Linked DNA regions of Homo sapiens. The protein of the gene in region 5 purifies or fractionates together with the protein of the main gene of each other region. This does not show direct contact. Each region holds a gene or a part of one and is shown on either strand. Other genes may lie near its edges. The genes, in order: ACTR1A, CLSPN, DDX23, NCAPG, WDHD1, SF3A3 and CAPRIN1.

Evidence for each region.
Region 1: the proteins of WDHD1 (region 5) and ACTR1A fractionate together in Homo sapiens (co-fractionation; one large-scale study listed by BioGRID). This does not show direct contact.
Region 2: the proteins of WDHD1 (region 5) and CLSPN purify together in Homo sapiens (affinity purification with western blotting; one study listed by BioGRID). This does not show direct contact.
Region 3: the proteins of WDHD1 (region 5) and DDX23 fractionate together in Homo sapiens (co-fractionation; one large-scale study listed by BioGRID). This does not show direct contact.
Region 4: the proteins of WDHD1 (region 5) and NCAPG fractionate together in Homo sapiens (co-fractionation; one large-scale study listed by BioGRID). This does not show direct contact.
Region 6: the proteins of WDHD1 (region 5) and SF3A3 fractionate together in Homo sapiens (co-fractionation; one large-scale study listed by BioGRID). This does not show direct contact.
Region 7: the proteins of WDHD1 (region 5) and CAPRIN1 fractionate together in Homo sapiens (co-fractionation; one large-scale study listed by BioGRID). This does not show direct contact.

What each region holds. Positions count from the first base shown.
Region 1 is NC_000010.11:102,485,713-102,489,212, forward strand, and holds part of ACTR1A (alpha-centractin), read right to left. Parts: intron 3,427-3,500; coding exon 3,351-3,426; intron 2,564-3,350; coding exon 2,438-2,563; intron 22-2,437; coding exon 1-21. UniProt on the Homo sapiens protein: Part of the ACTR1A/ACTB filament around which the dynactin complex is built. The dynactin multiprotein complex activates the molecular motor dynein for ultra-processive transport along microtubules.
Region 2 is NC_000001.11:35,745,979-35,749,478, reverse strand, and holds part of CLSPN (claspin), read left to right. Parts: coding exon 1-12; intron 13-874; coding exon 875-1,074; intron 1,075-1,417; coding exon 1,418-1,572; intron 1,573-2,486; coding exon 2,487-2,713; intron 2,714-3,500.
Region 3 is NC_000012.12:48,835,164-48,838,663, forward strand, and holds part of DDX23 (probable ATP-dependent RNA helicase DDX23), read right to left. Parts: intron 2,918-3,500; coding exon 2,779-2,917; intron 2,495-2,778; coding exon 2,361-2,494; intron 2,231-2,360; coding exon 2,118-2,230; intron 1,875-2,117; coding exon 1,731-1,874; intron 1,632-1,730; coding exon 1,406-1,631; intron 1,104-1,405; coding exon 958-1,103; intron 1-957. UniProt on the Homo sapiens protein: Involved in pre-mRNA splicing and its phosphorylated form (by SRPK2) is required for spliceosomal B complex formation.
Region 4 is NC_000004.12:17,824,479-17,827,978, reverse strand, and holds part of NCAPG (condensin complex subunit 3), read right to left. Parts: intron 3,012-3,500; coding exon 2,922-3,011; intron 2,598-2,921; coding exon 2,418-2,597; coding exon of another isoform or gene 2,412-2,417; intron 1-2,411. UniProt on the Homo sapiens protein: Regulatory subunit of the condensin complex, a complex required for conversion of interphase chromatin into mitotic-like condense chromosomes.
Region 5 is NC_000014.9:54,992,600-54,996,099, reverse strand, and holds part of WDHD1 (WD repeat and HMG-box DNA-binding protein 1), read left to right. Parts: intron 1-286; coding exon 287-497; intron 498-3,500. UniProt on the Homo sapiens protein: Core replisome component that acts as a replication initiation factor. Binds directly to the CMG complex and functions as a hub to recruit additional proteins to the replication fork.
Region 6 is NC_000001.11:37,976,523-37,980,022, forward strand, and holds part of SF3A3 (splicing factor 3A subunit 3), read right to left. Parts: intron 3,012-3,500; coding exon 2,943-3,011; intron 2,534-2,942; coding exon 2,466-2,533; intron 2,306-2,465; coding exon 2,198-2,305; intron 432-2,197; coding exon 362-431; intron 1-361. UniProt on the Homo sapiens protein: Component of the 17S U2 SnRNP complex of the spliceosome, a large ribonucleoprotein complex that removes introns from transcribed pre-mRNAs.
Region 7 is NC_000011.10:34,054,731-34,058,230, reverse strand, and holds part of CAPRIN1 (caprin-1), read right to left. Parts: intron 1-3,500. UniProt on the Homo sapiens protein: mRNA-binding protein that acts as a regulator of mRNAs transport, translation and/or stability, and which is involved in neurogenesis, synaptic plasticity in neurons and cell proliferation and migration in multiple cell types.

The DNA.
Region 1 (3,500 bases), on a different chromosome or scaffold from region 5:
CTCAGTCAGGAGCACAGGATGCTGGTGAAAGGAGCCCGGGAGACAATGAGGCCAAGGCCAGATTTCCATCTTCATTAGTCTTAGGGGAGAAGACCCTGCCTTGCTGGTTTGAGAGCCCGGGGACTTCAGTCAGCCTCACTCCAAAAAAAGGCAAGCTGTGCCTGTCAACTATCCCTGCCCAAGTAGTTTTCTCAACTTTTCAAGTTAATGCCCACTTTAAAATTTCATTCTGTCCTCAGCTGTGCCCCCCAACTCCCCTCCTTGTCCTCCAAGATTGTTATACAGGCCCCTGTGTCTACTGTGTATCTCCAACTGTCAAGAAGATTTTGTGAAACTCTAAATTCCTGCCGCAGACCAGTTCTAGTCTGTGACCTGTTAGGAACCAGGCTGCACAGCAGGAGGTGAATGGCAGGTAAGCGAGCATTATTGTCTGAGCTCCACCTCCCATCAGATCATCCAAGGCACTAGATTCTCATAGGAGTGTGAACCCTACTGTGAACTGCGCATGTGAGGGATCTAGGTTGGGCACTCCTTATGAGAATTGAATGCCTGATGATCAGAGGTGGAACAGCTTCATCCTGAAACTATCTGGCCACCCCAAACCCCCACCCCCATGGAAAAACTGTCTTCCAAGAAACTAGTCCCTGGTGCCAGAAAGGTTGGGGACCACTGCTTTAAAAAAACTGTCTGAAAACAGCCGGGCGTGGTGGCTCACACCTGTAATCCCAGCACCTTGGGAGGCTGAGGCGTGCGGATCATCTGAGGTCGGGAGTTCGAGACCAGCCTGACCAACATGGAGAAACCCCGTCTCTACTAAAAATACAAAATTAGCCGGGCTTGGTGGTGGTGCATGCCTGTAATCCCAGCTACTCAGGAAGGCTCAGGCAGGAGAATCGCTTGAACCTGGGAGGCAGAGGTTGCGGTGAGCCGAGATTGCGCCATTGCACTCTAGCCTAGGCCACAAGAGCGAAACTCCATCTCAAAAAAGCAAACAAAAAAAACCCAAAACTGAAAACATCCCACCTGCACCTGGAAATTGATACACCTAGTCTGCACCTCTCTGCATTTTCTTTCTTTCTTTTTTTTTTTTTGAGACAAGGTCTCACTCTGTCACCAGGCTGCGAGTTCAGTGGTGCGATCTTGGCTTACTGCAACCTCGATGCCCCCAGGCTCAAGCAGTCCTCCCACCTCATCATTTCAAGTAGCTGGGACTACAGGCACGCACCACTGTACCCGGCTATTTTTTTTTTTTTCATATTTTTAGTAGAGGTGGTGTTTCGCCATGCTGCCCAACTTGGTCTCAAACTCCTGAGCTCAAGAGATCCACCCAAAGTGCTGGGATTACAGGCATGACCCACAGTGACCAGCCTCCCTTTACATTTTTGAATGGAGAGTTACTTCCTTACAAGTTAATAAGCACAGGCTGCACAAGGTGGCTCACGCCTGTAATCCCAGCACTTTGAGAGGTGGAGGCGGATAGATTGCCTGAACCCAGGAGTTCGAGACCAGCCTGGGCAACATGGCAAAACCTTGTCTCTACAAAAAATACAAAATTTGCCAGGTGCCATGGCTCATGCTGTAATCCCAGCTACTTGGGAAGCTGAGGCAGGAGAATCATTTGAATCCGGGAGGCAGAGGTTGCAGTGAGCCTAGATCACGCCATTGCACTCCAGCCTGGCCAACAAGAGCAAAACCCCACCACACACACACACACAAAATTAGCCGGGCATGGTGGGGGGTGGGGCTGAGATGGGAGGATTACTTGAGCCCAGGAGGTCGAGGCTGCAGTGAGCTATTGCACTCCAGTCTGGGTGAAAGAAGTTAATGAGCACAGGCTTTGAATTCTAAAAGACATAGGTTTGAATTCCATCTCTACCCTTTGTTCACTTGGTGACCTTGGAAATACCACTTGGCTTTTCTTTTTTTTTTTTTTTTTTGGGACGGAGTCTCACTCTGTCACCCAGGCTGGAGCACAGTGGCGCAATCTCGGCTCACTGCAAGCTCCGCCTCCCGGGTTCACGCCATTCTCCTGCCTCAGCCTCCGGAGTAGCTGGGACTACAGGCGCCCGCCACCACGCCCGGAGAATTTTTTGTATTTTTAGTGGAGACAGGGTTTCACCGTGTTAGCCAGGATGGTCTCGATCTCCTGACCTCGTGATCCACCCGCCTCGGCCTCCCAAAGTGCTGGGATTACAGGTGTGAGCCACCGCGCCCGGCCACGACTTGGCTTTTCTGAACTTGTTCCCTTGTTTGTAAAATGAGATAATACTACCTATATCTCATAGGAATGGTGTTAAGATTAAATCTGAATATGCCTGAAAATCAAATGGCTCCAGCACTCTTGGCAGTGATCATCGTCCTCCTCATCATCTCTAGGGTAGGAGTTTGACACAGCTTTGCATACCCTACAGGAGTGCCCTACACACAGGATCCTCACCTCCTCTGAGAAAGTCTGCAGCTGGTCCTTAGAATAGACATATTGCCAAATGCGTTCCATGTCGTTCCAATCCTTGACGATGCCATGCTCCATGGGATAGCGGATTGAAAGCAGCCCTCGGTGCTCCTGGGAAAAGAGAACAGGACTTACGACTGCAGTCAGGCTCCACCCAGGACCCTGTTCTCCCAAGACTAAGCAGTGCAAGCTGAATCCCTTGCAAAGAAGCCTCAGCTTCCTGAGCTTCCACCCTGCTGTCCTTGCCCAGGGCTAAGGGTGGGCACTCATTCTCCAAGGCTAAATACTGTTTGCTGCAAACTGCCCTCATTCCCGAGGAGCCGGCAAAGCAGGGGCTTCTGCATTTCCATGGCCCCTCAGGTGCCTCTAGGGCAAGTGGCAGGAGGCATCTTCCTCATTGCCTGGTTCCAGGACACAATCTCCTGGCTCCCACCTCTGGGCCTCAGCACTTGAAGCCAAGGATGGCAACAGCGATTCTGCTATCTGCTTACAAGAGGCTGCATGAGGGCTCTGACAAAGCTGTGTGAATTAACTCATCCCTAGGGTACCCCAGCCAGGATCTCCCCACTGAATATTTTTTGTGAAAAAAATAATAAACACAGTAAATTTGATCACTGACAAGGCAGTGACAGGATGCAGAAGACAACAGCCCTGTTTCCTAGACTGGTCTCAGTGTGTCCCAAAGTGAGGTCCCAGGTATTTTCTTCTCCAAGACCACAGGCTGTTCCTGGGAAAAATAAACCACCTAAGCCTAGGATGAGAGAATCAAAAAGGAGATTTTCAGAGAAAGTTGCCCCTTTTACTTATGGGTATGTCCAAATGTTGGGACATGTTCCATGTGGTGAATAATGAAGGTCCTCTGCTGGCTTAAGGCTTGTTCTGTAGGCCTGGGAATTACCTCAGCTTTGGGGCCAATGAAGATGTCGCCTTCAAGGGCTCCTGCCATGACACGAACGTGCTTGGGTCGGCCCACACTAGAAAAGACAGTGAGGAGGACCATCATTTTTCATTTCATGACAGAACACAGGAAGGATGTATAGATGTACAT
Region 2 (3,500 bases), on a different chromosome or scaffold from region 5:
CTAGCAAACTGGGTAAGTAGTGATTCTTGTGCAGAACTTAACATTTCTTTTGTCCCTCAGCTTTGATATTTAAGGACTGCAGTACGGTAAGTTTCCATGTTTTTAAATCTGGTCACTTCCCAGTTTCATATGTAGCTATGAAAAGGGTTTATGAATTAGAATATTTTTCTTGGTCTATTTTTTGCAGTTTATTTATAGTAGACCATGGTACATAATGTCCTTAGTGAATGTGTGTTGATTGAGTGAGCAATGAAATGTTTCTGTATGTAGATCAAAGGAAGACGTATAATTGATTGGACAATGAAGAGTGTGATCATAGGCATTAGGAAGGATAAGAGAAAGAAGAGAACTTTCGGCCAGGCGCAGTGACTCACGCCTGTAATCCCAGCACTTTGGGAGGCTGAGGCAGGCGGATCATGAGGTCAGGAGATCGAGACCAGCCTGGCTAACATGGTGAAACCCTGTCTCTACTAAAAATATAAAAAATTAGCCAGGTGTGGTGGCACGCGCCTGTAGTCCCAGCTACTTGGGAGGGTGAGGCAGGAGAATCGCTTGAACCTGGGAGGCGGAGGTTGCAGTGAGCCGAATTCACGCCACTACACTCCAGCTGGGGTGACAGAGCGAGACTGTCTCAAAAAAAAAAAAAAAAAAAAAAAAAGAACTTTCAAGTGTCACTTAGCTCAGAGTAATAAGCCCTGATTATATAATGCTATCTTAGTACTGTAATTTACCTTTAACTTAATGTTTTGGAACATATAACTTGAGGGGTTTGCCTATGAATTTTATCTGACAGTTTCATCCTCAACTCTTTTTCCTAAACAAATCCACCTTATTTCTGTAATCATGTGCTTAAAAGGTGTTTCTCTTTCTTTAGATGAGGATGATTCATGTTCATTGCTAACAAAGGAGAGCAGCCACAATAGCAGCTTTGAGCTGATTGGCTCCACGATTCCATCCTATCAGCCTTGCAACAGACAAACAGGCCGTGGGACCAGTTTTTTCCCTACAGCAGGAGGATTCAGATCTCCTTCCCCTGGGCTATTTCGAGCCAGTTTGGTCAGCTCAGCTTCTAAGGTAAGATGGTAATGGTTTTTCTAATCTCCTCCTCTCTTTGCTTCCCACATTGCTAAATAAAGTTTGTCCCAGCCAACCAACTCCCACCACGTTGGTACTGAGCTTATGTGTGTTCAGTTTAAAAAATCCACCCCCTTTGTGTATTAAAAACAAGCTTCATCCAGTATTCTTACTTTCTTGGAGGTATTTTTCTTTATGCTTCTCATGGCTGTGTATTGTCCCCCTCAACTACAATTTCCTGAGAGTAGCTTAAATATTGCAAATAGCAACTTTTGTGGTTGTCATGACAATGACTGACATTTGTAAAATGTTTTGTTATTGTTTGTTTTTGTTTGTGTGCCAGAGTTCAGGGAAACTGTCTGAGCCTTCACTTCCCATAGAGGATTCCCAGGATCTGTATAACGCCTCCCCAGAGCCTAAGACACTTTTCCTAGGAGCAGGAGACTTCCAGTTCTGTTTAGAAGATGACACTCAGAGCCAACTGTTGGATGCAGATGGGTAGGTAGTTTTGTGTTTCTGTGGGCGGGAATGGTGCTGGGTACTGCTTAATTTTGTTTAAAAATAAGTGAGCTTCTGTCACTCCATCTGTGCTTTCTCTTCTGAGAAAGAGAAGGTGTACAGACCATTAGTATTACATTCTATAAGTTTGAACAAAGTCTGTCCAGAAAATAAACATAAATAGCTCTTGCTAACATTCTGGTCCTTCAATTTCTGTCTTATTTGAAATGCATAGATCTTGTATTGTAAGGTCATCAAATTTCCCTGTATCCATCCTGCTATGTTATTATTGTTGGGTAAGGTTGAGAATTCACAGACTGGTGGCACATTACAGGACATAATGCCAAGCCCTGCTCTAGCATCATCTGAAGCTAAAAGTTATCCTTTACACTTTACCTTCTGAGTAACATTTTATTCTTTCACAAAACTTTTCCCTCCCTCTTTAGATTAACACAAGCCTAAAGTTTGAATCTTTTGCTTTCTGGTTTGAGATTCAGCTTTTAACTGGTGTAGGAAATGAATTCAGAGGTTTTTCACCCCCTACTTTGCCATTTCTCTGAGGAATTTTTTTTTATTTTTTTTTTTGAGGCAGAGTCTTGCTCTGTCGCCCAGGCTGGAGTGCAGTGGCGCGATCTCGGCTCACTGCAAGCTCCACCTCCTGGGTTCACGCCCTTCTCCTGCCTCAGCCTCCCGAATAGCTGGGACTACAGGCGCCCACCACCACGCCCGGCTAATTTTTTGTATTTTTAGTAGAGACGGGGTTTCACCATGTTAGCCAGGATGGTCTTGATCTCCTGACCTCGTGATCCGCCCGCCTCGGCCTCCCGAAGTGCTGGGATTACAGGCGTGAGCTACCGCACCCGGCCCTCTCTGAGGAATTTTTTACACTATTCGTTGTGCTCATTGGTTCTTAGGTTCTTAAATGTTAGAAACCACAGGAATCAGTACCAAGCTTTGAAGCCTCGATTGCCATTGGCCAGTATGGATGAGAATGCCATGGATGCCAACATGGATGAGCTGTTGGATTTGTGTACTGGAAAGTTCACATCTCAGGCTGAAAAACATCTACCCAGGAAGAGTGACAAGAAAGAGAACATGGAGGAACTTCTGAACCTTTGTTCAGGAAAATTCACTTCTCAGGGTAAATATCCAACCGAGAGTATCAAGCTTACCACACCCAAGTATCAGTGCCCTTGAAAAGAATTCCCTGGGCGGGTGGGGTGGCTCATGCCTGTAATCCTAGAACTTTGGGAGGCTAAGTTGGATGGATCGCTTGAGCTCAGAAGTTTGAGACCAGCCTGGGCAACATGGCAAATCCCCATCTCTACGAAAAAAAAAAAAAAAATTAGCCAGGCATGGTGGCACGTGCCTGTGGTCCTAGCTACTTGGGAGGCTGAGGTGGGAGGATCTCTTGAGCCTGGGAGATGAAGGTTGCAGTGAGCTGAGATCACACCAGTGCACTCCAGCCTGGGTGGCAGAGACCCTGCATAAAAATAGAAAAAAAGAAAGAAAGAAAAGAAGCCCCTTACCCTCAGGTGAAAAGTTCACAGAAAACAGGGCTGTGATGGAATCTGTGTATAAACTGAATTCACTGCTTAGTGCCCTGATATTTAGAACTCTTACTTTCTTAGAGTGGTAAAGTATCAACTTAAGACTACTTTAGGCCGGGCGCAGTGGCTCACGCCTGTAATCCCAGCACTTTGGGAGGCCAAGGCGGGGGATTTCCTGAGCTCAGGAGTTCGCCACCAGCCTGGGCAGCACGGTGAAACCCCGTCTCTACTAAAATACAAAAAATTATCTGGGCATGGTGGCCCGTGCCTGTAATCGCAGCTACTTGGGAGGCTGAGACAGGAGAACTGCTTGAACCCCGGAGGTGGAGGTTGCAGTGAGCCGAGATTGTGCCACTGCACTCCAGCCTGGGCAACAGA
Region 3 (3,500 bases), on a different chromosome or scaffold from region 5:
CCTGGGAGGCAACGGTTGCTGTAAGCCAAGATCACACCACTGCACTCCAGCCTAGACAATAGAGCGAGACTCCATCTCAAAAAATAAATAAATAAATAAATAATAAATACATAAAAATCAGAGATTCAGCCAGGTGCAGTGGTTCACGCCTGTAATCCCAGCACTTTGGGAGGCCAAGGCAGGCAGATCAGTTGAGATCGGGAGTTTGAGACCAGCCTGGCCAACATGGTGAAACCTCATCTCTACTAAAAATGTAAAAATTAAGGACAGGCACACTGGCTCACGCCTGTAATTCCAACACTTTGGGAGGCTGAGGCAGGCAGATCACTTGAGGTCAGGAGTTAGAGACCAGCCTGACCAACATTGAGACCCCGTCTCTACTAAAAATACAAAAAAATTAGCCGGGCATGGTGACGGGCACCTATAATCCCAGCTACTTGGGAGGCTGAGGGAGGAGAATCACTTGAACCTGGGAGGAGGAGGTTGCAGTGAGCCGAGATTGCGCCATTGCACTCCAGCCTGGGCAACAAGAGCGAAACTCCGTCTCAAAAAACAAAACAAAACAAAAAACCAAAAATTAGCTAGAAGTGGTGGCACACGCCTGTAATCCCCAGCTACTCAGGAGGATGAAGCAGGAGAATCACCTGAACCTGGGAGGCAAAAGTTGTAGTGAGCTGAGATCGTGCCACTGCACTCCAGCCTGGGTGACAGAGTGAGACTCTGCCTCAAAAAAATAAATAAAATAAATCAGAGACTCCAGGATAGCAAAGTTCTCCAGGTCTTTGCCAGCAACATATACTTCTTCGATATCATGATCCAATTATTCCCTAATATCCAACAAAGAATAAAGAAGAAAGCTTCTGATTATAGACGTAAAACAAAAATCAAACATTCATTTGCCACTTTCACCTTTCCTACCCAGACAAACCCACTCCAGCTGGTGCTAGCTGACCTCACCTGTCAATTTTGGGAAGTGTGGTGATCCAGACCAGCAGAGGGATGAGGAAGGCTGCTGTCTTGCCACTGCCAGTCTCAGCCACACCAATGATGTCACGATTCTGTAGCCCAATGGGAATTGCCTGACGCTGTATAGGTGTTGGTTCCTGCAGTGACCCCAAGAAAGAGTAATAGGTACAGGGAGAGTTATACCACCTGGGCAACCACTGATAGTAGTAAGCACATCTGCTAGCACAATGGAAGGATGCCAAGTACAGTTCACAGAAATAGGGACCCCAAGAAGAAACCTAATCACTAAAAGCCAACACTTCTACCAGAAAGTGACAGAAAAGGTCACATTGGTGCCCACTAGCAGCGATGGCTCCAAATAGTCAAGGAACAAAGTTCTCTATTCCCAAACTAGTGTAGGAACATGTCAGATCTCTTGGGCCAATCTATCCCTCCTTACCTTGTAGCCACACTTATCAATGACCTCCAAGATGTGTGGGGGCAGAGAAGAGTCTTTCCAGGATCGGATGGGATTGGGGATCTTGCCACCTTTGGTGGTGATGCTGTAGTCCTCACGGAAGATCCGCCAGTCCCTGTCCGTCATCTCATCTAACTTTTTCTGAGACCAATGACGATCATCCCAGCGCTGCTTGGCTTCCTTCTTACGAAGTTTGCGGAGTCTTGCCCTGGAGCAGGGTGTGAGGAGTAAGTAGAATCAGTGCCCTCCAACTCCTTTCTGTAGAGCCTCTGGGCTCTGTCCAGCCACCCTAGCCTTGATCACTCACTCCTCCTGCTCCTTTTCTTCCAGGGTTCGCCTCTTCTCCATTAGGTCTCCATAGAAACGTGACTGCTCTCGCTTCTGCTGCTTGAGGTCAATGCCTGCAATGAAGCCTCGCCCTAACAACTGCACCTGGTGCCGTTCTTTGTACCTGGGATTGAGATAGAGGAAAAGAAAAAAGAAGGAGCTGTTAACGGCAGTAGGAAGGAAGGGCAGACTACTAGTATGAAACAGTTCTTCCCAGACAGGGTCTTTCTTCCACCAGAGGGCTGGCTGACTACCAGTCTACCAATTTTCCATCCCAGCTTATCTTACTTCCTCCACCTCCGTAGTCATCAGCTCTCTAGGACTGCCTAGTGGAAAAGACCTAGAACTCAGGCCTGAAGCCACTCACAGGGGGTTGTAGTCAATGGATGTGTCCTCAGATGCATCCCACTCAAAAACAAATTTCCGGTCATTGAGATGTCTCGTTCGGCGCCGCTTTTTGATGCCACCCAGGTAACGCTCCTACCCAGGGACAGAACACAAAGCACATGAGCTTTGAGGCCCAATTCTCACATGCAGAGATCACAATGGCCAAATAACTAAACCTCATTTTTGTGTGGGAGAGAAGTGAAGATGGAGCCAAGGCCTGCACCTTAATGGCATGCAGTTCCTTGCTCTTATCCTTCTCTTCCCGGATCTTCTGCCGCCCTTCCTCATCCTCATTTCCATTGGTCTCCCGTTCCATCCTCTCCCTGCGTTCCCGACGTTCCCGTTCCTGAGGATCTTCTGCAGACCAAAGAAAGCAAAGCTGCAGAAGAGCTCATGGAAGAAAAGAGGAGAGGGAATGGAGGGAATCCAGACGAGGAACCCCAAATGAAGAAAAAAAGGGGTAGACTTATGATATGGGGTAAATGGAGATCTAACAGAAAAATGTTTTCTCATAAACTCCCACCATCCTTCCCCTTTCCAAACTCCAGAGTGAACAGGTTTCTATCTCTCCTAAGAGACACTGTATCTCATCCCACTCTTTCCTCTTCCATCTAGGGGCTACACAGGGTAGAATAACAAACCCAACATCTTCCTGCCCAAGTCTTGGAACTGTTTCCTTTTCTTCCTCTCTTCTTCAAGCATCCTCTGCCGCTCTTCCACCTCCTGCTGCCGTCGCTTTAGAGCTTCAGCCTCTCGTTCTGCTTTAGAGAGGAACTTGGGCTACAAAAGAGATTGGAACTGTCAACAAAGGATCTGGGAGCAGGGTACAATCACATCACTGATGGGGAGATGGCAGGGAACCCAAAAGTATTTGCTCAGGCATTAAGCCTGTTGAGGAAAACACAAATAGGCCTTGGACTCGGTTATGGACTGAACTATGTCCCCTACAGAATTCATATGTTTTTTCAGGCTGGACGTGGTGGCACATGCCTGTAATCCCAGTGTTTTATGAGACCTAGATGGGAGGACCGCTTGAGGCCATGAGTTCAAGACCAGCCTGGGCAACATAGCAGACCTTGTTTCTACAAAAATAAAAAAACTCAGCCAGACATGATGGCATGTGCATATAGTCCCAGCTACTCAGGAGGCTGAGGCAGGAAAATCATATGAGCCCAGGAGTTTGAGGTTACAGTGAGCTGTGATTGCACCACTGTACTTTAGCCTGGGCAAACGAGCAAGACCTTACCTTTAAAAAAAAAAAAAAAATGTGGCCGAGTGCGGTGGCTTGTGCCTGTAATCCTAGCACTTTGGGAGGCCGAGATGGGCGGATCACGAGGTCAGGAGTTCAAGACAAGCCTGGCCA
Region 4 (3,500 bases), on a different chromosome or scaffold from region 5:
AAACACAAAAATTAGTGTGGTGGTGCACACCTGTGGTCCCAGCTACTTGGGAGGCCGAGGCACGAGAATGGCTTGAACACGGGAGGTGGAGGTTGCAGTGAGCTGAGATCATGCCACTGCACTCCAGCCTGGGCAACAGAGGGAGACGTTGTCTCAAAAAAAAAAAAAAAAAAGTCTAATCTTCATCTTGCCTAATTATCACCTCAAAAAAAAAAAAACCTGACAACCTCGTTTATCATCTATGAGCTAGCCCAGCTATTTTCTAAGTTTCAGATTCATATATATAACTGCTAAAAGACATTTCCTCTTGATGTTCCACAGTTTCCTCAAACTCAACATGTCCAAAAGGGAACTCATCATTACACAAATCTCTCCTCTTCCTTGTTCTCTATCTTCATACTGTCATCACCATCTACCCAGTTGTCTAAACCAAAAGACTTAAGATACATTCCTGACTCCCTTTTCTCCGTTACTAATTTCTAAATACCTCTCAAGTTCATCACTACTTTCCAAATCCACTGTCATTATCTTGTTCAGACTACCATCATCTGTAAGTCTCCCAACCCTACTGTAAGTCTCCCAACTATTATGCCTGTCTAAGCTTTTACTACTCTCCAATCCATTTCCTAAACAACAGTGATCTGAGACATAAGACTTACCTAACCACTTAAAATACTAGTGGTTCACCACAATCCTTAGAATACAAAATTTTTAATATTGCTTACGCAAAGCCTTACATGACCTAGCCCTTAATTTTTCCCCAGATTTTTCTCCTGCTTCTCCCCATCAATTCTCTAGTCACATGGACCTGAAGTTTTAAAACATAATAGGCATTCTTTAACTTCTGGACCATCACAGATGTTGCTCCATCTGTCTACAACATTCCTTCCATAATTCATTGAGGAGAGACAGCACAGAGTGAGTTAAAAGCACAAGTCTAGAGCCACTTCTTGGGTTTAAATCCTGCCTCCACCATTTACTATCTGTGTGATTTTGGGCAAGTTACTTGCCCTTTGTAAAATGAAGATAATAATAGTACCAACCTCATAGGCCTATAGGAAGAAAAGAATGAATTCACATTTGTGAAGTAATTAATGCTGTGACTACCACAGAAAAAGTATCCTCTGACTGTTAGATTATATTGTTATTTTTATTCTAATCTCAGGATAAAACATGTCTTCCTCTGGGGAAGCCAACAATACTCTACCAGCACTAGAAACCTCTCCATAAAACCTCTATACTTCCCTGACCATAGCATTTATTATGCTCTGTTGTAGTTGCATTTTAACAGATTTGTAGCCCTCGAACAGGACAAATAGACACATAAATGGTCAAAGCAAGTCAAGTTAAACAGACGATATTAACCATGATAGACTACTTTTGCTAATTTTATAATTTTGACCTAAAGTTTGTCATTTTTCAGATGATATTTTCAGTTTTTGCTTTAAATTTGCTTTCCAAATTTAATAGCCTATAATGGCCCACAGACTTCGTCAAATAAAAGAAGCCACCAGCTATCAAAATAAAATTCAGGCATACACTCTGGGAAGGTGGGTGTTGGAGTTGGGATGTCTATGGCTAAAGAGATCAGAAACATAACTCATGAAACTCTCCTATATAAAAGAGTCTCCTATTTAGCATTCTTTTTATGAGAATAATCAGCACATCCCAAAAGTACAACAATAAATGATGTTCATTACAAAAGGCAAGATCCCAAAAGAAATTAAAGTTAATATCAAATATTAATTGATACCTATCTTATGTTTACATATTTATCATTTGTTGTAAGACAGAATGGTATCGATACCATTAACAAAAAATTTCTTTCAGAAGGAAAGACATACTCCATTTAAGAGAGTACTTTAACAAACTAATTTTTTAAAAAACGAACTACTGAAAAGCAAGCTTTAAATGTTACTAGACATATTTCAGTATTTCATTAAAAATAACAAAGCTGCGTAGCTTTTTCTAAAAACACAAAAGTAATTTAGCTTTAAAAAAATGCACGTTACCATAGAAATTATTTTGCTAGCAATAAAAAAGAAAGGTCATTGATCCTCCACAAATAAGAGGAAAATGGATGTATTTTCCTTTTTTAAACCATTCAAGACAAAAAACAGAAAACTCAGATGTGAACCACTGGAAAGCTAGCTTCCCTGGTAAGAAAGACTTCGGATTCTAGAGATTAGCATGACAAGGAAGCAAATAAAGTCCTACCTCCAATAATTAAAGTTAATTAAGGCCTTTCAAAGTCCAAAAATAGAAACAGGGAAAAACTTTTTTCATTTTAATTCATGTCACTATTACAAAGTGCTCAAAGTAAATATATTTTGGCAATTCTAGAAGTTAGAGAAAATAAGATTTAGTTGAGATGATTAATAACACCTGAGATTTAGTATGAAAAAAGTTACCTGTACCTTCTCTATGTGGACTTCTTTAATTTCAAGTTGCTCTGTCTCTTTCAAAAGGTTTATTCTGGCATCTTCTAATGCTTTTATTTCTTCTTTTAATTCTGATGCCCGATTAAAATCCTGTAAGGTAATGCAATTTTCCAAAGCTTCTTTGGCTTCGATAAGCTTAACTTTTATTTCAGCCATCTAAGGGAAGATATAAATTGTTTCAACACTGAACAAAAACTGTTAATATGAATATCTGTAGCAACTCAGGAGTATTATTTAATATCTCAACTGCCCAGAATTTAATGAGTCAGGCATATGCAAACTTGTAGTTTTCCTGACACAGAGATCTGCATATCTCTGAGACTGACATATGTGGTAACATTTTAAATATTCTTATAGTTTAACAATTAAACAATAATTTGATTATGTGAGAAACATTTCAGAACTGCACAGCAAGAGGAAAGAATAGACTTGCCCAGCTACATTACACTCAAGCACTTCTTTCATTTAAAAGAGACTTACCTTGAGTTCTTTCTTTCTTACATCAGCTGGATCGTTATTAACACCAACAGTAACAATGGGCGCCCGAATCTCTGAGATAATTTCTGTAACCTGTAAGTTCAGAGTACATGCTTTAATATATGTTTGATATATCAGCAAATAGTATCAAAATTCTATATAAAACTCCAAGTAGTATCCACCATATATTGAATAATGGAGCAAAAACATACTGGTAGAAATAGCACACATTCTGTTTGCTAGACAATTTTAGAAAAAAACAAAACAAAACAATATATCTGACTACAAAATGAAATTATTTGAATGGAAGGGAAATAGGCACACAGACAGTGAAAGTAAATTATCCCTCATATAATGTTTGAAAAACAGAAATATGAATTATGGTGCTTAAGATGAGACACTTAAATTCTCTGCCTAAAATCCTCAACCCTTCTCTTGTTCAGCTCTGTAGGAGTTAAACACAGAAAAATGGAATATCCTTTTATTCTTCCTTTGGGTAGACAATGCATAAATAATAATAGCATAAGGAAGGACTTTCCTTTCAGAACCACTTGTATATTGGAATTGGCTGATCAGGAAAAG
Region 5 (3,500 bases):
AATAAAATCTTATTTTATATTTTGGCATATACAGTATTTGTTTACATGTCAGTCCCTATACTCCCATCCCATCCCCAGACTACAAGGCATTTGAAATAAGGACTGGGTCTTATTGTGTAAATATAAATACAATTCTCATAAATACATTTACTAATTATTCTTATCTGTTCAGTGAGTTTGCTGCTTGGTAGAATTTATAGGTGCATATTAAAAGTTTACCTTTTTAGTAATTGAGTTTTTCTAAATCATTCACTTTTACTTTATAATTTGTATTAATTTGTTCAAGGTATCTAGCAGAGTGGAAAAGGATTATAATGATCTTTTTGATGGAGATGATATGAGTAATGCTGGTGATTTTCTAAATGACAATGCAGTTGAGATCCCTTCTTTTTCAAAAGGGATTATAAATGATGATGAGGATGATGAAGACCTCATGATGGCTTCAGGTCGTCCTAGACAGCGAAGTCACATCCTAGAAGATGATGAAAACTCAGTTGGTAAGAATTTGACTTTGTGCATGTGATTACCCTGTTGATTAATATTTTAGATTTTTTATTAACACTATTAAAGTCATTATTGAATTTGTAGAATGTAGCTAAGTGGTGCTTAGAGGAAATTTTATAGCATTAAATGACTTTGTTAAAAAAGGTTTCAAATCTATAATCCAAGCTTCTGCTATGGCAGACTAGAAAAAGAGAAAACTAAACCCCAAGCAAATGGAAGGAAATAATACAGAGCAAAATTCAATAAAATTGACAACAGAAAACCTATAGAGAAAGTCAATGAGACCAAAAGCTGGTTCTTTGACAAGATCAATAAGGCCGGGCACGGTGGCTCACGTCTATAATCCCAGCACTTTGGGAGGCTGAAATGGGCAGATCACTTGAGGTCAGGAGTTCAAGACCAGCCTGGCCAACATGGTAAAACCCTGTCTCTACAAAAATACAAAAATTAGCTGGGTGTGGTGGCACGTGCCTGTAATCCCAGCTACTCAGGAGACTGAGGCAGGAAACTCACTTGAACCCAGGAGGTGGAGGTTGCAGTGAGCCGAGATCGCGTCAACTGCATGCCAGCATGGGCAACAGAGCAAGACTCCATCTCCAAAGAAAAGAAAAGATCAATAAAATTAATAAATATCTATCGTGGTTGATCAATAAAGAGAAGACACAAATTACTAACATAGAGAATGAAAGAGAGGTGGGCCATCACTATAGATCTGTAGATTTGTGCTATCCAATATATAGTAGCCACTAGCCACATGTAGCTGTTGAGCACTTGAAATGTGGTTAGTTCAAACTGAGATATGTTATGAGTGCAACCGGATTTTTTTTTTTTTTTTGAGGCGGAGTCTCACTCTGTCACCCAGGCTGGAGTGCGGTGGTGTGATTTTGGCTCACTGCAACCTCCGCCTCCTGGATTCAAGTGATTCTTGTGCCTCAGCCTCCTGAGTAGCTGGGATTACAGGCATGCGCCACCACGCCTGGCTAATTTTTGTATTTTTAGTAGAGATGGGGTTTCACCATGGAGTGCAACCAGATTTTGAAGACAATATGAAAAAAAGAATGTAAAAATCTTGGGAAATTTTTTATATTGAGTACATGTTGAAATGATAATATGTATTTTAAATGCACTATATTATTAAGATTATGGCTGTTTCTTTTTACTCTTTAAACTTTAGAAATATTAGAAAATTTAAAATTACAGCTGTAACTCACATTATATGTCTGTATGGCAGTGCTACTATTAATATCAAAGGCATAATGGCAATATTATGAATAACTTTGTGCCCATAAATTTAACAACTTAAATGAAATAGACGAATTTTCTGAAAGACACAAAGTACCACTGCTAACTCAAGAAGTAATAGATAACCTGAATAGTATTGTATCTATTAAAGAAATTGAGATTGTAATTTAAAATCTTCAAATAGAGTGCTTATTGTAACAACTTACATGCTACAATAACACTTGAACATTATCAAGTAAAATGAAGAAATTGAGATTGTAATTGAAAATCTTCAAATAGAGTGCTTATTGTAACAACTTACATGCTACAATAACACTTGAACATTATCAAGTAAAATGCCAATGTGCAGTGCTATGTTGTGCTTTTTAAAGTCATATAGAGTTTATAGAACAGCAGTCCTCAAATGTTTTGGTCTCAGTAGCCTTTATACTCTAAAAAATTTTGAGGACCCTTCCGAGAGCATTTATTTATACAGAGTTACGGCTATCGTCATTTACATATTAGAAATTAAAATTCAGAAATTTAAAAATATTTATTCACTTAAAAATAACATTAATAAACTCATGTAAACATGAATAGTACTTTTTTATGAAAAACAAAAAAAATTAGTGAGAAGAGTGGCATTGCAATCTTTGTAATGTCTATCATAGAGGATAGCTGGATTCTCTCATCTACTTTTCTGGATTAAGTCTATTGCTATACATTGTTTTTGTTTGAAGTGTATAAAGAAAATTTGGCCTCACATAAATATGTAATTTGAAAAGGGAGAAGTATTTTAAGAAATCTTTTAATAGCACATTCAATTAATTGTGGATATTCTTTGATGTTGCACCAAGACTCAGAAGATGATCGTTTCCTAAAGATTACTTGCAAAGTGTAATCTGAAAACTTCAGTGAACTCTTACGGCTCTGTTATGTTAAGATTCATTGGTCTGGCTGGGAATGGTGGCTCTCACCTGTAATCCCAGCACTTTGGGAGGCCCAGGCAGGAGGATTGCTTGAGGCCAGGAGTTCAAGACCAGCCAGGGCAACATAGTGAGACCTCCTCTCTACAAAAAAACTTTAAAAATTAGCCAGGTGTGGTGACGTGTGCCTGTAATCCCACCTACTTGGGAGGCTGAGGTAGGAGGATCTCTTGAGCCCGAGAGGTCGAGGCTGCAGTGAGCCATGATTGCAACAGTGGGCTCCAGGCAGGGTAACAGAACGAGACCCTGTCTCAGAAAAAAACAAAATAAAATCAAAAAATTCATTGGTCTGACTTGAATGTTGAATGGATTTTTTAAAATCATGTTTAATTTTGTAACATATGAATTGATAATATTGGTTCACTGAAGTTTATAGATCCTCTTTATACTGACACTTTTTATTATCTAATATAAATTATTTGTTTTTGTTTTTAATTAATTATATGTTGTTTTTAATTAATTAATTTTTGTTTTTAGAGATAGCATCTTGCTCTGTCACCTAGGCTGGAGTGCAGTGGTATCATCACACCTCACTGTAACCTTGAACTCCTGGGCTTAAGCAGTTCTCCCACTCAGCCTTCCGGGTAGCTAGGACTACAGATGCATGCCACCATGCCCATCTAATTTTTTATTTTTTGTAGAGATGGAATCTTGCTTTGTTGCCCAGGCTGGTCTTGAAATCCTGGCCTCAAGTGATATTCCCTCCCCAGCCTCCCAAAGTGCTGCAATTACAAGCGTGAGTCACAGCACCTGGCTGTAAATTATATCTGCTAGTGTTGTTACCAATCT
Region 6 (3,500 bases), on a different chromosome or scaffold from region 5:
AAAGGCCACTTTGAGTAGCCTTTCTGTTACTTGCCCTTTGAGTGTCTGCTTTGTGGGCTACTCCTGAGTATTTTCTAAAGCTCAGGCACAGAATCTGCACTATTCTGGACATTATATTGTGAGGGGACTCTATTCTCCATGACTGGCTTTATGGGAATTGGGCAACTTTGGGAGTATCATCTAACAACAGAATAGGAACTTACTGAAGAGCCTTGTACCCTGACCTCTATTTTGTGCCATACTAGTTTATCAGCTATCCACTCCTCTTTTGAACCTAATGAAAAAGTATCTTCTGTGAGTTCCTCTCCCTTTAACTCCTGTGCTTTATACCATTTTCCACTTTCAGCAGTCAGTCACTTACCCCGAGAATCTCTACATATTCATAGATCTGGGCTTCTAGAAAAGCAATGTCTTTGTTCCTTTCAGTGTCTCTGAGAAAAAGAAACAAGCTGTTTCACTCAAGGATTCTCTCATCCATTGTTTTGTTCCCTATATCTGGGAACATTTATTGCACAACTGCATTAAAAATTATAAGCACATGAGAAATACGATGCTATGAAAGCAAATGCTCTGTTCATCTCAGGACTCTCTGACAAATACTGAGGGTATTTCTCAGAATGCATGGAGGCTTCCTCTATGACCTCACTTAGAAGATGAAGGACACATCAAGACCGCTTACATTTCCATCATTATAATCTACAAAGGAAATGTGGTATATAAGAGCAAGCTCTGCAGCAGGTAGACCTAGGCCCAAATCCTGACTCTGCTACTTAGAACTATGAGAGAGTGGACACATTCCATAACTTTTCTGAGTCCTTATCTGCAAAAACTCAGGATAACAACTAATTTTCTGGGTTGTTGTGAGAATTAGAAAAAAACGTACATTAAGAAAATACTGGGCCAGGCTCGGTGGCTCATGCCTGTAATCCCAGCATTTTGGGAGGCTGAGGCTGGCGATCACTTGAGGTTGGGAGTTTGTGACCAACCTCGCCAACATGGTGAAACCCTCTCTCTACTAAAAATACAAAAATTAGCTGGGCACGGTGGCTCACATGCCTGTAATCCCACCACTGTGGGAGGCTGAGGCAGGTGGATCACCTGAGGTCAGGAGTTCATGACCAGCCTGGCCAACATGGTGAAACCCCGTCTCTACTAAAAATACAAAAACTAGCCAGGCATGGTGGCGCACTCTGGTAATCTCAGCTACTCGGGAGAGTGAGGCAGGAAAATCGCTTCAAGCAGGGCGGTGGAGGTTGCAGCGAGCCGAGATTGCGCCACTGCACTTGAGCCTGGGTGACAGAGGAAGACTCCGTCTCAAAAACAAACAAACAAAAAACACACAAAAATTAGCCAATGTGGTGTTGCACATCTGTAATCCCAGCTACTCGGGAGGCTGAGGCAGCAGAATCACTTGAACCCAGAAGGCGGAGTTTGCAGTGAGCCGAGATTGTGCCACTGCACTCCAGCCTGGGCAACAGAGCGAGATTCCATCTCAAAAAAGAAAAAAACAAACAAACAAAAAAAACAACCCTGGGTCGGGCACGGTGGCTCGCGCCTATAATCGCAGCACTTTGGGAGGCCAAGGCAGGTGGATCACTTAAGCTCAGGAGTTGCAGACCAGCCTGGCTAACATGATGAAACCCCATCTCTACTAAAAATACAAAAAATCAGCCATGTGTGGTGGTGCGTGCCTGTAGTCCCAGCTACTCAGGAGGCTGAGGCAGGAAAATCTTTTGAACCCAGGAGGTGGACGTTCCAGTGAGCTGAGATTGCACCACTGCACTCCAGCTTGGGCAACAGAGTGAGACTGTCTCAAAAAAAAAAAAAAAGAAAAAAGAAAATACCTTGTATAAGTATGTAGCTCAAGAATTAGATTCAACTTTACCAAAAATAAGCTTAGAAAAATAGGTTTTGAACCTATTTAGCCTTTTAGCCTCCATAACCTATTAAAGGTGCCATGAATATGGTTTCAAATTTAGAAACTTGATGTGCTCTCAATCAGATGAATACAGACGGTCCTTGGTTTATATTAACAGTGATAGTACTCTCTGCTATTAGCAGAGATAAAGAGCAGACTGGATCTCTGTCAACCAATAACGGAGATAAAGCAGGCTTTAAAGTCTCCACTGTGGTTAAAAATTCTGCATGGGAATAACATTTAAAAGCCACAAGCAGCAGTGCTACCCCAGCCACTCACCGCTTGGTGCCCTTTGACTTGGGATTTTTGGCAAACAAAGAGGTATCAAGTGACTCCAGGGACTTTCCTTTGGTACTGAATAGTCTCTGGGCTCGCTCTTCTAGGGTCCTAAGGAGACAGGACGGCAAAGGATTTTAGGGTTACTTTACCACACAGGCTGGCTTATTTTTGCAGTGTGGAGCAACAAAAAAAATGGAATCAGAGCTACTTAGAAGACTGTGCAAACACACAGTAAATCGATAGTTTTGATAGAAAAACTATTCCTTACCCGCCACATTTCAAGCCTAAAGCTAAGAGAGCAGATTTCAATCTGTCCAAACCCAGAGAAGCCAACTCCTATACAAAGAAGAGAAAAATTACAATATTACATTAACAGATTTTTGGGAAACCCCAAATGCAGGCCAGAGGGTGGGTGTTCCTGAGGCTGTGGCAGGACCACACATTTCACAGCCAATCTAGCAGTAAGTCTAAACTCTCCAGAGGACTGAATCTATAGTTATCTTCAGACTTAACCATACTGATAGTGTTCCATTTACTTTACTACGGCTTAATGTAGTTAGAATAATTATTTCAGTTTCCCAAGTAGTAATTTTTTTCTTTTTGCCTTGCTACTTTCTTTGTAGATGCTTGATCTCAAGAAATAGTGCCTTATCACAACACAACCATGGTATTAAAGACAGGAGAGCAGTCTTTAAAGACAGAAAAATAGACAGAGAGAACACTACTACTGCTGAAGGAAACATACCTCCCAGGAGGAGAATGCAGAGAGGTCAAGATGGGCTCCAGCATGGGTCAGGGCACTGCTTGTCTCTTTCTGGAAAGAACAATATGGTATTTATTAAGATCCAGGTTTAGGCCAGGTGTGGTGGCTCACACCTGTAATCTCAGCATTTTGGGAGGCCAAGATAGGTGAATTGCTTGAGTTCAGGAGTTAGAGACCAGGCAGGGAAACATGGTGAAATCTTGTCTCTACAAAAAATTATCTGAATTAGCTGGGCATGATGGCATGTGCCTGTGGTCCCAGCTACTCAGGAGTCTAAGGTGGGAAGATCTCTTGAGCCCACAAGGTTGAGGCTGCAGCAGTGAGGTATGATCATGCCACTGTACTTCAGCCTAGAAGCCAGATGGAGACTTTGTCTCCCAAAAAACAAAACAAAACAAAACAAAACAAAAAACAAAAAAACCCCACCAGGTTTAGGATGAAGCTAAGGTTTGTCCACATTCTCTCCCTGGAGAGTTCAGGAAAAACTCATGTTTATCCCTAGAAGTGAGAATGTAGATTCCTAACATATGATCTGATAAG
Region 7 (3,500 bases), on a different chromosome or scaffold from region 5:
CAGGAGGCAGAGGTTGCAGTGAGCTGAGATTGCACCACTGCACTCCAGTCCTGGGCGACAGAGCAAGATTCTGTTTCAAAAAAAACTGCGAGAATTTTGGAAATCACCCATTCCAACCTAAGTCATTCCATATAAACATCTCAATTTTGTCTTCTATAAAATGAACTGGACTAAATTCTAAGGTGGTTTAAGCTCTAAAAAAAAACTCTTAGGCCGGACATGGTGGCTCATGCCTATAATCCCAACACTTTGGAGGCTGAAGTGGGTGGATCACTTCAGGTCAGGCGTTTTGAGACCAGCCTGGCCAACATGGTGAAATCCCATCTCTACTAAAAATATAAAAAATTAGCCGGGCGTGGTGGCGGGCGCCTGTAATCCCAGCTACTCAGGAGGCTAAGGCAGGAGAATAGCTTGAACCTGGGAGGGGGAGGTTGTAGTGAGCCGAGGTCATGCCATTACACTCCAGCCTGGGCAACGAGAGCAAAACTGTCTCAAATAATGATAATAAATAAAAATTAAAAATCCTCTAAATTTTATAACAGTGTAAGATTATAGCTATGACAAAATTGCTATAAGTTTAACCTTTTGCAAAAGTATTGCAAAAATTAACACTTTTACTAAAGGAAAAGTGTTAGTTTTTCTAAAAGATGAAACAGTACTAGTCTTCATCTAGCCCTAAATGTAAACTAGGAAATTAATTACATAAAATTTTGGCAAATTGTATGCTTAATCTGTAAGTCACACAAAATGCATTCTCAAATATCTGCCACATGGGTAGTATCCTAGAGTACACTAATTTGGCCACGTTAAAACAATACATTCTCAATGTAATACTTAGGCTTCGACTCTCACCCTAGAAAAAGGTACCCATTATCACTTGGGGGAATTCACAGCTTTAAATACTTCCCAGTGCTACACATACAAACACACACAGTCAAGCAAAGGGAAACAAATTAAGCATTACAGCTTTTTTCTATGACAAGGTGAATGCAAAATAATCTTGCCCTCTGCATTGCAGAAGAATAGTTCTTGCAACCCATGGAAAAGCAAACACATCAAGAGATCTTAAATGTCAAAGAAGGCTTCAGGTAATAGCCTCAAGGAAAGATTTTACTTATAAAATAGTTAAGAATGTTTTTATTTTAAAACACTGAACACATAAGTTCTGCACAACAGCTGCAATGAAAATTCTAAGCACAGACACACTGCAACGTTCTAGAAAGAAATGTTACCCTCACAACAACAGCATTCTTTTTAAAGAATACTACTAACTGCAAAGATGAAGTGCAGAAAGCCTTCAGGAAAAAGTATTAAAAACACTACACTTCTGGCTATCAGTTTTGGTCACTTAGTGGTTAAAAAGCTGTCAGGCTATTTTTGCATTTTACGCAAGTGATCATTAGTTAATCTTTCACCTACCAAAGTCACTAGAGTCTAAACCTATTATATTCACAAAGAATATAACAATTTTAAATGTCATCTATTAAAACATCCTTTATTCTATATCACAACTGATTACATCTAATAATATCAAATGAGGTCTCTCTTCAGTTAAAATTAAGACTTGGTTTTGAAATATCTTGCATAGCCTAGGGCCCAGTTCAGCACCAATGAACTGATAAAGAAAACTAGGCAGTTAATCATTCAATTCAATATTACCTGTAAGATTTGCAAATGGATTTTACACTTGATTATCACAGCTGTATTTCTTCTCTTTGCTAAACATTCATGTACTCTTTATAAGCCTGAATTTAAAAACCCACCAAGCCTTTTAGTTGCATTACATAACACGATCATATTTCATCAACATTAAGAGCATGCATTCTCAATGAGCAGATGCTTAGCTTTTTCTTTAATGGCTCAAATTATTAGGAAATAAACAACTTTGTTTTTTAAAGTACAATAAAATTATTTCAATTCTCTGTTTTAATTTAAGCAATACTACATATCCATAGTCATTTTTGCCAGGATATTTGATTTTAAAATCCATAAAAAAAGCATTTTGGTCCAGAAGGCTCCGATAAGAATAGGTCAAGATTGAAATAAAGCTCAAATGTAAGTTGCTAAATGGACTGAAGTCAAAACAAATCTAATTGTAAATAGTACCTCACTTTACTCCACAAGGGTTTCTAAAGAGGAATTCAAAACTGATTTGTAAAGCAATCCTATTTTAGTGCATTAGAAATGCTCACTTATACTTAAAAACAGTTAAGTCTTCTCACAAGTAAATCATCTAAATATAAAAAGGATTTAAACTAAAAACCAGATGTGCTTAAATTTAGGGCAAATCCAAATGCCCTGGGTTTTTCAAAGGGCAAAAGATATAGTTTTAATAGCAATTAAGTCAACATCAATACTGCCAACTTAACTACTTAACATGTAGGTAGAGTTCAGTCTGTGGCTTATCAAAGTCTCAAGACTTAACTGTAACTTGACCTTTTTGCTGCTATCTACCACTTAAAACACTGAGAAGACAGAAAAAAAAGTTACTTTGTGCAGTTTGTTGAATCTCCATTATTAACACGGCAATCTTTCAGTATGTATTAGCCTAGTTAATAACCTATGTAATAATTACATTATTTTCTCCTTTATGACTTTAGGGGAGGCCCGGCATGGTGGCTCACACCTGTAATCCCAGCACTCTGGGAGGCCGAGGCGGCTGGATCACCTGAGGTCAGGAGTTCTAGACCAACCTGACCAACAAGGTAAAACCTGTCTCTACTAAAAATACAAAAATTAGTTGGGCGTGGTGGCAGGTGCCTGTAACCCCAGCTACTCTGGGCGGGGGGCCGAGGCAGGAGAATCGCTTGAACCCAGGAGGCGGAGGTTGCAGTGAACCGAGATCACATCGTCGCACTCCAGCCTGGCGGACAAGAGCGAGACTTCTCAAAGAAAAAAAAATTGCCTGGGGTGGTGGCGCACACTTGTAATCACAGCTACTTAGGAGGCTGAAGCGGGAGGATCACTTGAACCCGGGAGGTGGAGGTTGCAGGAAGCCAAGATCATCCTACCGCACTCCAGCCTGGGCACTCCAGCCTGGGCAACAGAGATTCATCTCAAAAAATAAAAATAAAATAACAAAATCACTTGAGGGTAGGGTATGACAGAGTATAGTAATTCACATACACCTATACACATTTAATGACCAGTCATGGTTCAAGTCCTCAGGAGGGGCTTATAAACTAGATTTATATTTTTTTTTCAGAAGTACTTGAACACTAGATTCTAACAGCCACCTCACAACTAAATTGGCTGCCAATCAGCACCTACCTTTATATTAACTTCTCTGAGGAGTTATCTTTCAGTCATTAATGTCTCTACACTTTATATCACTAATCATTAATGTTCATAATTAGTATTAACACATTATTAATGTTCACAATCATTAATATTTTATGTTCAATTACTGTCCTAGAAAAAAACATTTCCAAGAAATTCTAAAGAATCAAAAACTCAAGTAGCAGCCAGATCAGCAGGCTTGCTTACTGCATTAAAATTTT